Homo sapiens: one gene and its partners. The protein of the gene in region 1 purifies or fractionates together with the protein of each later gene. This does not show direct contact. Each region holds a gene or a part of one and is shown in the gene's direction. Other genes may lie near its edges. The genes, in order: COL6A2, RNASE4 and COLGALT1.

What was found.
Region 2: the proteins of COL6A2 (region 1) and RNASE4 purify together in Homo sapiens (co-immunoprecipitation; one large-scale study listed by IntAct). This does not show direct contact.
Region 3: the proteins of COL6A2 (region 1) and COLGALT1 purify together in Homo sapiens (affinity purification with mass spectrometry; one large-scale study listed by BioGRID and IntAct). This does not show direct contact.

The regions. Positions count from the first base shown.
Region 1 is NC_000021.9:46,128,964-46,132,711, forward strand, and holds part of COL6A2 (collagen alpha-2(VI) chain isoform 2C2 precursor), read left to right. Parts: exon of another isoform or gene 1-232; coding exon of another isoform or gene 233-528; exon of another isoform or gene 529-838; intron 839-2,990; coding exon 2,991-3,589; 3' UTR 3,590-3,748. UniProt on the Homo sapiens protein: Collagen VI acts as a cell-binding protein.
Region 2 is NC_000014.9:20,687,489-20,691,136, forward strand, and holds part of RNASE4 (ribonuclease 4 precursor), read left to right. Parts: intron 1-1,275; exon of another isoform or gene 1,276-1,386; intron 1,387-3,648.
Region 3 is NC_000019.10:17,558,540-17,562,187, forward strand, and holds part of COLGALT1 (procollagen galactosyltransferase 1 precursor), read left to right. Parts: intron 1-771; coding exon 772-882; intron 883-1,808; coding exon 1,809-1,926; intron 1,927-3,648. UniProt on the Homo sapiens protein: Beta-galactosyltransferase that transfers beta-galactose to hydroxylysine residues of type I collagen. By acting on collagen glycosylation, facilitates the formation of collagen triple helix. Also involved in the biosynthesis of collagen type IV.

The DNA.
Region 1 (3,748 bases):
TGCCACCGTGCGGGTCTCCTAGCTCCCTGCCAGCTTCCTGTCCCTGTGCTCACTGCCCCCACGCCTCCTGCCAAGGCCGAGCCACACACCCGCTCCACCTGCATTTCCTCTACCGACTCGCCAGCCCAAATGCCGCTCTTCACTCTGGCCTCGCTGAGCGGCTGCCCGAGGAGGAGCTCTAGGCCGACGCCCACCGCAGGCCTTACAGTCTTCTCTGGACGCTCCCTTGCAGATGCACCGTGGCCTGGCGGCGAGCCCCCGGTCACCTTCCTCCGCACGGAAGAGGGGCCGGACGCCACCTTCCCCAGGACCATTCCCCTGATCCAACAGTTGCTAAACGCCACGGAGCTCACGCAGGACCCGGCCGCCTACTCCCAGCTGGTGGCCGTGCTGGTCTACACCGCCGAGCGGGCCAAGTTCGCCACCGGGGTAGAGCGGCAGGACTGGATGGAGCTGTTCATTGACACCTTTAAGCTGGTGCACAGGGACATCGTGGGGGACCCCGAGACCGCGCTGGCCCTCTGCTAAAGCCCGGGCACCCGCCCAGCCGGGCTGGGCCCTCCCTGCCACACTAGCTTCCCAGGGCTGCCCCCGACAGGCTGGCTCTCAGTGGAGGCCAGAGATCTGGAATCGGGGTCAGCGGGGCTACAGTCCTTCCAGGGGCTCTGGGGCAGCTCCCAGCCTCTTCCCATGCTGGTGGCCACCGTGTCCCTTGCTGCGGCTGCATCTTCCAGTCTCTCCTCCGTCTTCCTGTGGCCGCTCTCTTTATAAGAACCCTGGTCATTGAATTTAAGGCCCACCCCAAGTCCAGAATGACCTCGCAAGACCCTTAACTCACTCCCGTCTGCAGAGTCCTTCTTTGCTGCATCAGGTCACCCTCACAGGCTCCAGGGTTTGGGTGTGGAAGTCTTTGGAGGCCCTTACTTAGCGGCCCAGCTGGGCTGCCGTGCGTCTGGGATGGGGCTGAGGGAGGGTGCTGCCCAGGTGCTGGAGGATGTTCCAGCACCAGGTTCCAGCGGAGCCTCGGAAACAGGCCCCAGAGGCTGGTGAGCCTCGCTGGGTGTGGGCACTAATCCCGTGCATGGTGACTCGTGGGCGCTCACGGCCCACCTGGTGGCAGGTGAAGGCTTCCGGTTGGGCAGCAGATAGTCCTGGGGGAAGCTGGCAGTCCTGGCACCATGACGTATCTGGGCTGGTGTCATGCACAGTAGGGCGAATGGCCACAGCTGCCTGCCAGCAGCCCTGATCCCGGGGTGTCTGCACCCTTCCAGCCCAACCTCTGGGTCTCCAAAAGCACAGTCGGGGGAGCATCCACCAGGCACAACCTCTGCGGTCCTCAGAGGACTGAGCAGAGAATCCCAGGGTCCACAATGTTGGGGAGCGGCAGGGATCACCATCCAAAGGGAGCGGCCCCCACGGCGAGCTGACCCCGACGTTCTGACTGCAGGAGCCCTCATCCAGGCTGGGCTCCTGCCGGGCACGGCTGTGACCATTTCTCAGGGCCAGGTTCTCGTCCCCACACCCACTGCACAGGGCAGGCCAGGCTGGTCTTCCCACTGTGGGGATGAAGGATCCTCCACAGGAGGAGGAGAGCAGAGTCCACAGACATCCCAACAGCCTCAGCCTCCCTGTGCCTGGCCGGCCCCCACAGCTTCCCCGTCTCCTCCAGGCCCCACAGACACTGATGAATGGACAGAGACCCCCAAAACCAGCTGCCCCTTGCATGTCTGTCTCCATATGTTTGGTGACAGCAGTGAAAATGTTATTAGTTTTGAGGGGGTTTGGGAAGCCCAGCGGTACCTGAGGAGTTTCTGGACATTTAAGCCGGTTCCTAGGTGTGGCCTTAACAGGGAGGCTGCCCTTCCTTTCACTGAATGAGCTGCGTCACTCATAAGCTCACTGAGGGAACCCCATCTGCCAGCTCGTGCGTGCTCAGACGGCGTCCATGTCTCAAGCGTTCTGTGAAGGCTGCGGTGCAGCGTGAGGTCACCCTGCTGTGTTCAGAGCTTTGCTCACTGCCTGCGGGGCTGGACCGTTGCACCTCCAGGGCCCCCAGAAACCGAGTTTCGGGTCAGGGTCCTCTGTGTGCATTCCTGGGGGTCCATGTACCAGCTGTGACGACGTCCAGGGGTTGGGCTGAGAAGCAGACACCCTTGGGGAAACTGGCTCTGTCCCTCCCCTCCCCCATCCCAGGAGCTGAGGTCTTGGTGAGGCCACAGGGCCAGGTCCACGCAAGGACTGTCCGTGTCCTGTCCTGTGGTCTCTGGCCCCACGTGACACCCACACGTGTGGTAGGCAGCCTGGCCTGGGTTGTGGCTATGGCCAGGCCCCCAAGCTGTCCCCGATGCCCAGGGCTGGTGACCACCCAGGCAGGTGGGGGCCCCACTTGGTAACAGAGTCATAGGGCAGAACCCACCTGGGCTGCCACAGAAGGTCTGGCTGCCCCTGTGCCCACTGCTCCCCACCATGGCCAATCAGAAGAGTCAGGGGCTCCTGGTCTTTCCGGGAGGGACGTGGCCCAGCCAGCTCTAGGTGTTCTGAGCAGCTCTGGGACCCAGCGATTGAGGGGTCAGGCTGGGGGTGTCAGAGCCAGGGTCCTCCTTAAGTACCTCCCACACTACACAGACAGTGGCCCTTTTGTGGGCAGCAAATTCTTGAGCCATGAAAGGATGCTTTGGGCCCCTTCCCTCCCAGGAGGGCAGCCTGTGCAGGGATGGTGCTCAGCAGGTGGACAGGGCCTGGGGCCTGTGTCAGGGTCTCAGGCCTGGGAGCACCAGCAGAGGAGATGGCGGCTCCCAGCAGTGCCGCCTGAAAGTGTCTTGGGCTAAGGACCCACACCCAGGGCTGCCCTGCAGAAACGCCCCCGCAGAGCCCAGTGGTCTGTGAGGTTGCAGGCAGGGTGCGAATGGAAGGGCACAGGTGCGGGGCTGGCACCTGCCCGGTCCTGCCCACCTCCCCTCCGCCCAGCCCGCACCTGCGTCTCCCCACAGAGCTGTCCGTGGCACAGTGCACGCAGCGGCCCGTGGACATCGTCTTCCTGCTGGACGGCTCCGAGCGGCTGGGTGAGCAGAACTTCCACAAGGCCCGGCGCTTCGTGGAGCAGGTGGCGCGGCGGCTGACGCTGGCCCGGAGGGACGACGACCCTCTCAACGCACGCGTGGCGCTGCTGCAGTTTGGTGGCCCCGGCGAGCAGCAGGTGGCCTTCCCGCTGAGCCACAACCTCACGGCCATCCACGAGGCGCTGGAGACCACACAATACCTGAACTCCTTCTCGCACGTGGGCGCAGGCGTGGTGCACGCCATCAATGCCATCGTGCGCAGCCCGCGTGGCGGGGCCCGGAGGCACGCAGAGCTGTCCTTCGTGTTCCTCACGGACGGCGTCACGGGCAACGACAGTCTGCACGAGTCGGCGCACTCCATGCGCAAGCAGAACGTGGTACCCACCGTGCTGGCCTTGGGCAGCGACGTGGACATGGACGTGCTCACCACGCTCAGCCTGGGTGACCGCGCCGCCGTGTTCCACGAGAAGGACTATGACAGCCTGGCGCAACCCGGCTTCTTCGACCGCTTCATCCGCTGGATCTGCTAGCGCCGCCGCCCGGGCCCCGCAGTCGAGGGTCGTGAGCCCACCCCGTCCATGGTGCTAAGCGGGCCCGGGTCCCACACGGCCAGCACCGCTGCTCACTCGGACGACGCCCTGGGCCTGCACCTCTCCAGCTCCTCCCACGGGGTCCCCGTAGCCCCGGCC
Region 2 (3,648 bases), on another chromosome or scaffold:
CGCATATGGGTTGTATGCTGTGGCAGGGTACCGCTTTTCGGGACTCAGAGGTGGTGTTGCTTGAGCTAAGCCTGGAAAGACAGGTCAGTTTTCTCCTTGCTTATGAAGGGTTCAAAGTCTGACTCCACCATTCATCTGCTGTTTGTTCTTGGAGTTTCCTCATGAGCAGAGCATATTTACATAATGCCTACCTCACACAGTCCTGGTGTTGGTTGAATGTAGTCATGTATGTGAGAGCTTCACAAAATGAAAGATTGCACTGAATATTATAATTATTGTGATTTCAAGTGCATTTGTTTTACTAGCAGGCAGCCTGTCTTTTCTTGACACCTTCTCAAGTGCAGCCAGACTGAATACTTGGCAGCTAGGTGGGTGACAACAGAGGATTGAGGATTTTTAAAAAGATAACACTGTCCTAGATCCAACACCACTGTGGGCAAATGCTGGGGGTCTGTGAAACAGTTGGTACCCTGCTGCTGTCTGATATTGGAAACTATGAGATCTATAAGGTGATCCTGGTGACCTTTGGCCCACTGTTTTTACGCAAGCAATGGATCTACAGCCCTGCTTTGATGATGGAGATAAGCAATTTTGCAACTACATTACAAGGATCAGAAGATTGAATGTTCAGGGTTAGTCTCTTGTGGACAGGTAAAGATGGAAGAAGGAGAAACCCAGGAAACATGGCAAGCCTGCTTCTGGGGGTTAGAAGCTGAGAAGTTGAGTGTAGGGGGAGGGGCAGTGTACTAATAGCTGTCACACAACCTTCTCTGGAAGTGCTTTCCTGGCTGTATGAAATCGATGGAATAACGTGCTTAGCATCCGTTCATGAAACCAAATGATGTGATACGATAAATAGGATGTGATATGATAAATGATAAATAGTACAGTGGAAAAGCATCCTACTGGAAGACCATATCTTACTCTGTGACATCTTCCAAGGCAGTTCTTGGAGTTGGCCCAGGGAGATCAGAGATGCTATCTTATGGATCCAGACTATTATGTGTGAATAGGGAAACCTCAGTCCTGCCATGAACAAGAGTAAGCACCACAGACAGCAGAAAAGGGCAACTTTTGGACAGAAGGCCATGTTTCTCAAACTTTGTCTTCCAGAACAAATCTCTAATCCATTCAGGTGGGTTAATATCTAACCCAATCATGCCCAGCGAAAAGGTGAATGACCCTCCTCGTTTGTTCAAGAGCAGTGTCCTTGGTTTTCATGTCCCTGCCAGGACTGGGACACTATATATTAGGAACACTATATAATCAGAACCTGGAGAGGCCTCCAGGTTCACACAACTGGAACCCATCTCCAGGAACAAACAGCTGGAACCCATCTCCCGTTGAAGGGAAACTGCCAGATTTTTGTAAGATTCTTCCTCCTGGGTAAACTATTGTTCAATTTGTTTTATATATTATTTCTAGCCATCCATCCATTTTAATGAAACCATTTTCCTCCCTTTAAAGCCTCCAGGCTCAAGCTCATGAATTAAAAAGAAAATGGATCAGATTCTAAAGTTTAAAATGAAAACAGGTTTCTTTTGGGATGGCCTATGTGTGGATAAAGAGAAATTAGTGAGACTGGGAGGAAGTGGAAGTTTAGGAGGGATTTCTAAATTGTGATAAAATCCCCAAAGGCCTGGGGGAGCCATTTGCTGAAGGCCATCGGGAGTCCTCCCCCGTCGTCCACCCCTGTTACAGGCATTACACGTGGCTTAACAAGGAAAGAAACAGTATGTTTTTAGCATTGTTTCCTTCTAACCTTCCCTGCTAATTTCTCTTCTTAGAAAAGTTTTGGATGCTCTTTCAAACAAAGTGGAACACATCCCAAGATCAAAAGAAGGCTCACTGGCAGGTTGAAGGGAAGAAGGAAGGAAAAGCAATAAAGGGATGAATATGCCTTGGGTGTTAGGCTCTTACTTTGGGGGATTTTGCCCTAGGATGTATAAAAGTGTGAAGCCACATTGATGAAAATGATAACTATAGTTACTCATCATAAACTGTCAAGTTAACTCCCTGGTGTGTAAAATTTGATGAATCTTTTGAATACTGAACATTGCCTGTGGGGAGAGGGAGAGAATAATTCTTGTGAATACTAACAGATTCATTTGATACAGAAGATAAAGTTACTCTAAAGAACAGTTGGGGCCAGGTGTGGTGGCTCACACCTGTAATCCCCGCACTTTGGGAAGCCGAGGTAGCCGGATCAACTGAGGTCAGGAGTTCGAGACCAGCCTGGCCGACATGGCGAAACCCCGTCTCTACCAAATACACAAAATTAGCCAAGCGTGGTGGTGGCCGCCTGTAATCCCAGCTACTTGGGAGGCTGAGGCAGGAGAATTGCCTGAACCTGGGAGGTGGAGGTTGCAGTGAGCCAAGATAGCACCACTGCGATCTAGCCTGGGCGATAGAACAAGACTCTGTCTCAAAAAAAAAAAAAAAACAGGCCGGGCGCGGTGGCTCACGCCTGTAATCCCAGCACTTTGGGAGGCCGAGGCGGGTGGATCATGAGGTCAGGAGATCGAGACCATCCTGGCTAACAAGGTGAAACCCCGTCTCTACTAAAAATACAAAAAATTAGCCGGGCGCGGTGGCGGGCGCCTGTAGTCCCAGCTACTCGGGAGGCTGAGGCAGGAGAATGGCGTGAACCCGGGAGGCGGAGCTTGCAGTGAGCCGAGATTGCGCCACTGCAGTCCGCAGTCCGGCCTGGGCGACAGAGCGAGACTCCGTCTCAAAAAAAAAAAAAAAAAAAAAAAAAAAGAAAAGAAAAGAAAAAAAGGACAGAGAACAGCTGGGACTAATTCCACTGACAAAAAGCTGACAGACAGTTACGTGTTTGGGTACAGAAGGATATATCTATAGGACTTTTGCCACCAGATGTGAGGCTTTGCACCCTTGGCTTAGGCAGATTCACTTTTACACCACAAACGATCTGTCTCTTACTGGTTTTCTCCCAATTCCATTTTACCTTGCTTTTTGAGGAATTTAGAGTTGAATATATTGAGAAAGTTTTGAGTGAGGGAGCAGATGTTAGATATTGGTGGTTTTGGTGTACGCTTGCTGAGATTTGGTTCCTGGATGTCTTAGGGAATCAAGATTACAGGCCCCCAACTAAACTTATACAAAATTTGTCTCTGTAACTGAGGGTCACTGGACCTTTGCTATTGAAACTAGCAAAGCCTCTATTATGTTTAATGAGAACCATGAAACTTCAGATTTTTAGAGCTAGCAACTCTTTTATTTTCTTGATGAACAAACCTAGGCCTGGAGAGAAAAATGAAGTCAATTACTTAAAAAATATTAAGGGTTATAATAAGGCAAGCATGTTGATTCAAGGTGAATAATATGAGTTCTGTGGAATATACACCAGTAAGAAACACTAACAAGTAAATACTTCATTGTTCATCCACGATCACGTGGGTAATGGCATGTTTGGAAATGGCACCCGTGAAACCTGACAACAGGTCGGTCTTTATTTTGTGATATCCTTATGGGTAGATTCTGAACTTTGTGGCTTTTACTTTGGCACTTATATCTAATGAGGTGTCCTTGGTCTTAATATCTAATGCAGAGCGAGTTTGGACAGAGATTCTAAACAGGTTCACCAGCTCATACTCCCTTCTGTGAACAGCAATATCCCCACAAGTT
Region 3 (3,648 bases), on another chromosome or scaffold:
TGGTGGTGGGCACCTGTAATCCCAGCTACTCGGGAGGCTGAGGCAGGAGAATTGCTTGGACCTGGTAGGCGGAGATTGCAGTGAACCAAGATTGTGCCACTGCACTCTAGCCTGGGTGACAGAGCAAGACTCTGTCTCAAAAGAAAAAAAAAATTAAGTGACACATATTTGTTAGTGAATGTGGTTTGCAAGATCTTAGATGCTCAGTAATAAAACAGCCAATCACTAATGGGTCTTTCCAAAATCAGCTTGTTTAATCCTTCCACTTCCCAGTAAACTGGGTCCTGTTCCCACCCCCATGTTACAGATGAGGAAACTGACATGGAAAGGGAGAAATGGGCCGGGCGCGGTGGCTCACGCTTGTTAAGTCCAGCACTTTGGGAGGCCAAGGTGGGCGGATCACGAGGTCAGGAGATCGAGACCAGCCTGGCCAACATGGTGAAACCCCGTCTCTACTAAAAATACAAAAAAATTAGCCGGGTGTGGTGGCGGGCGCCTGTAGTCCCAGCTACTTGGGAGGCTGAGACAGGAGAAGGCGTGAACCCGGGAGGCGGAGCTTGCAGTGAGCCGAGATCGCGCCACTGCACTCCAGCCTGGGCAACAGAGCGAGACTCTGTCTCAAAAAAAAACAAAGGAAAGGGAGAAGTGTCCTGTCCAGGGATACATAGCTGGTGGGAGGCCAGTTGGGGATGGTGGTCCTTGACTTGCCTCACTGCTGCCTGGTCCTGCCTCAGTCTCCCCAAGTACGCTGCCTGTCCCCTCTCCCTGCAGGGTGGCTACGGACCACAACATGGATAACACGTCAACTGTGCTGCGGGAGTGGCTGGTGGCCGTGAAGAGTTTGTACCATTCCGTGGAGTGGCGGCCAGCAGAGGAGCCCAGGTGAGCATCTTTCCCCTGCTCCTAGTCTGATTGGGCTTTGCCTCTGCTCACACACCCTCTATGGCTCCCCATTGCCCCAGAACAATTACAGGCCCTCAGTCCCTGCCTCCAGCCCAGCCAGGCAGCATTAAGCTACTCTGAGCCTCCCTCAGCTTTACAAATAGGCCATAATCCTCTTCTCAGACCTTTGCCCAAGCCGTTCCCTGTACCTAGAATTCTTTCACTCCCTTTTTCTTCTGGGGACGCCCACTGCTTTGTTCCCTGGCTCACTGACTCAGTCTTGGTCCCAGCACTGGCTTTGCTGTTTATCTACTCCCTAAAGCCCTGGGCAGCATGGACTCCCTGCCCCCACCCAGTTCCTTTCTGGGTTTTTGTTTTTTTTTTGAGACAGGGTCTCACTCCCTCACCCAGGCTGGAGTGCAGTGGAGTGAACACAGCTTACTGCAGCCTTTAACTCCTGGGCTCAAGCCATCCTCCCGCCTCAGCCTCCTGAGTAGCTGGGACTACAGGCACATGTAACCATGCCTAGCTAATGTTTTTGTATTTTTTGTAGAGATAGGGTCTCACTGTGTTGCCCAGGCTGGTCTCAAAGTGCTGGCCTCAAGCGATCCTCCCACCTCTGCCTCCCAAAGTGCTGGGATCGCAGGCGTGGGCCACTGCACTGGACCCCACTGAGCTTCCTTCCTTCCTTCCCTCCAGTGTGCCTCGGGCTTTCTTCCCTCCAGGCCTTTGCACAGGCTGTACCTCCGGCCAGGAACATTCTCCCCACTTCTCTTTCCTCGTCGTTTACTTTTTCCCATCCCTCAGATCAGCTTACACGTCCCCTCCTCCAGGAAGCTCTCTCTGAGTACCCCGAAGGCAGCTCAGGCCCTCGCTGGGCTTTGATAGTGCCTTGTGATGTCCACATCACAGCTGCCTCCCCATAGGTCCTACCCGGACGAGGAAGGCCCGAAACACTGGTCTGACTCACGCTACGAGCATGTCATGAAGTTGCGCCAGGCAGCCCTGAAATCAGCTCGAGACATGTGGGCTGATTACATCCTGGTAAGTTTCTCAGCCGGCCGGATATGGATCACAGGCAGGTCTGGGTATCCCCAGGGAAGGCGGAGCAGCAGGATGCCAGGACCATCCTTAATGTTGTTTTGCAGAAGGGTAAACTGAGGCTTAGAGAGGGGAGATGAGTTGCTTGAGGTGATATGGTTGGTCAGTGGAGGAGGAGCTGGGATTCATTTGATCCTCAGCACTAGGAATGAATGGGCTTTTCTGTCCCCAGTTGTCCCCTGTGTTTGGACACTTGGGTCAAGTCCATTTTTATTTTTTTATTTTTTTGAGACAGAGACTCACTCTGGTGCCCAGGCTGGAGTGAAGTGCCGCAATATCGGCTCACTGCAACCTCTGCCTCCTGGGTTCAAGCGATTCCCGTGCCACAGCCTCCTGAGTAGCTGGGACCACAGGCACCCACCACCACGCCCGGCTAATTTTTTATTTTTATTTTTGTGGAAGCCAGGCATGGTGGCTCATGCCTATAATCCCAGCACTTTAGGAGGCCAAGGCGGGTGGATCACTTGAGGTCAGGAGGTCGAGACCAGCCTGGTCAATATGGTGAGACTCCATCTCTACTAAAAATACAAAAATTAGCCGGGCGTGGTGGCAGGTGCCTGTAATCCCGGCTACCTGGGAGGCTGAGGCAGGAGGATTTCTTGAACCTAGGAGGCAGAGGTTGCAGTGAGCCGAGATCGTGCCACTGCACTCCAGTCACTGGGCGACACAGTGAGACTCCATCTCATAAATAAATACATAAATAAATATTTTTAAAAAATAACAAATAAAAAATATTTTTGTAGAGACGGGGTCTTGCTATGTTGCCCAGGCTGGTCTCCAACCCCTGGGCTCAAGTGATCTTCCTGCCTCGGCCTCCCAAAGTGCTGGGATTACAGGCATGGGCCACCGTGCCTGGCCGTGTCACGTCTGTTTTTATCACCATCATATGTAATGGCCAAACCTTTGGGTCACTTCCAAGAAGCAGGAGGAAGGGGTCAGGGGCTGGGGGGTGGTGGCCACATTGAATTGCTGAGGCCTGACTTGCACTTCCTCCTCCTGTGGGGACATTGTCTCATGGGGAAGGGAACAGTTGAGTCTTTTTATTTTTTTCTCGAGCCAAGATCACGCCACTGCACTCCAACCTGGGCCACAGTATGAGACTCTGTCTCAAAAAAAAAAAAAAAAAAAAAAAAACAGACTTATAGGTTGAATATTACTATTATTTTTTAATTTGTATAAACTTATGGAGCACAAGTGTAATTCTGTTACATGCATAGATTGTGAAGTGGTGAAGTCAGAGATTTTGGGGCGTCCATCCCCTAAATAATATACATTGAACCCATTACACAGTTTTCTATGATCAACCCCAAATGTTATTTCAGCCTTCATACTTTTCTATATTCTCCTGATTTTCTTTTTTCTTGTTTTTTGAGACAGAGTCTCTGTTGCCCAGGTTGGAGTGCAGTGGCACAATCTCGGCTCACTGCAGCCTCCTCCTCCTGGGTTCAAGCAATTCTTCTGCCTCAGCCTCCTGGGTAGCTGGGATTACAGGCCCCCGCCATCATGCCTGGCTAATTTTTGTAATTTTAGTAGAGACGGGGTTTCGCCATGTTGGCCAGGCTGGTCTCTAAAGTCCTGACCTCAGGTGATCCAGCTGCCTCGGCCTCCCAAAGTGCTGGGATTATAGGTGTGAGCCACCACATCCAGCCCATCTCTTAAAACAAA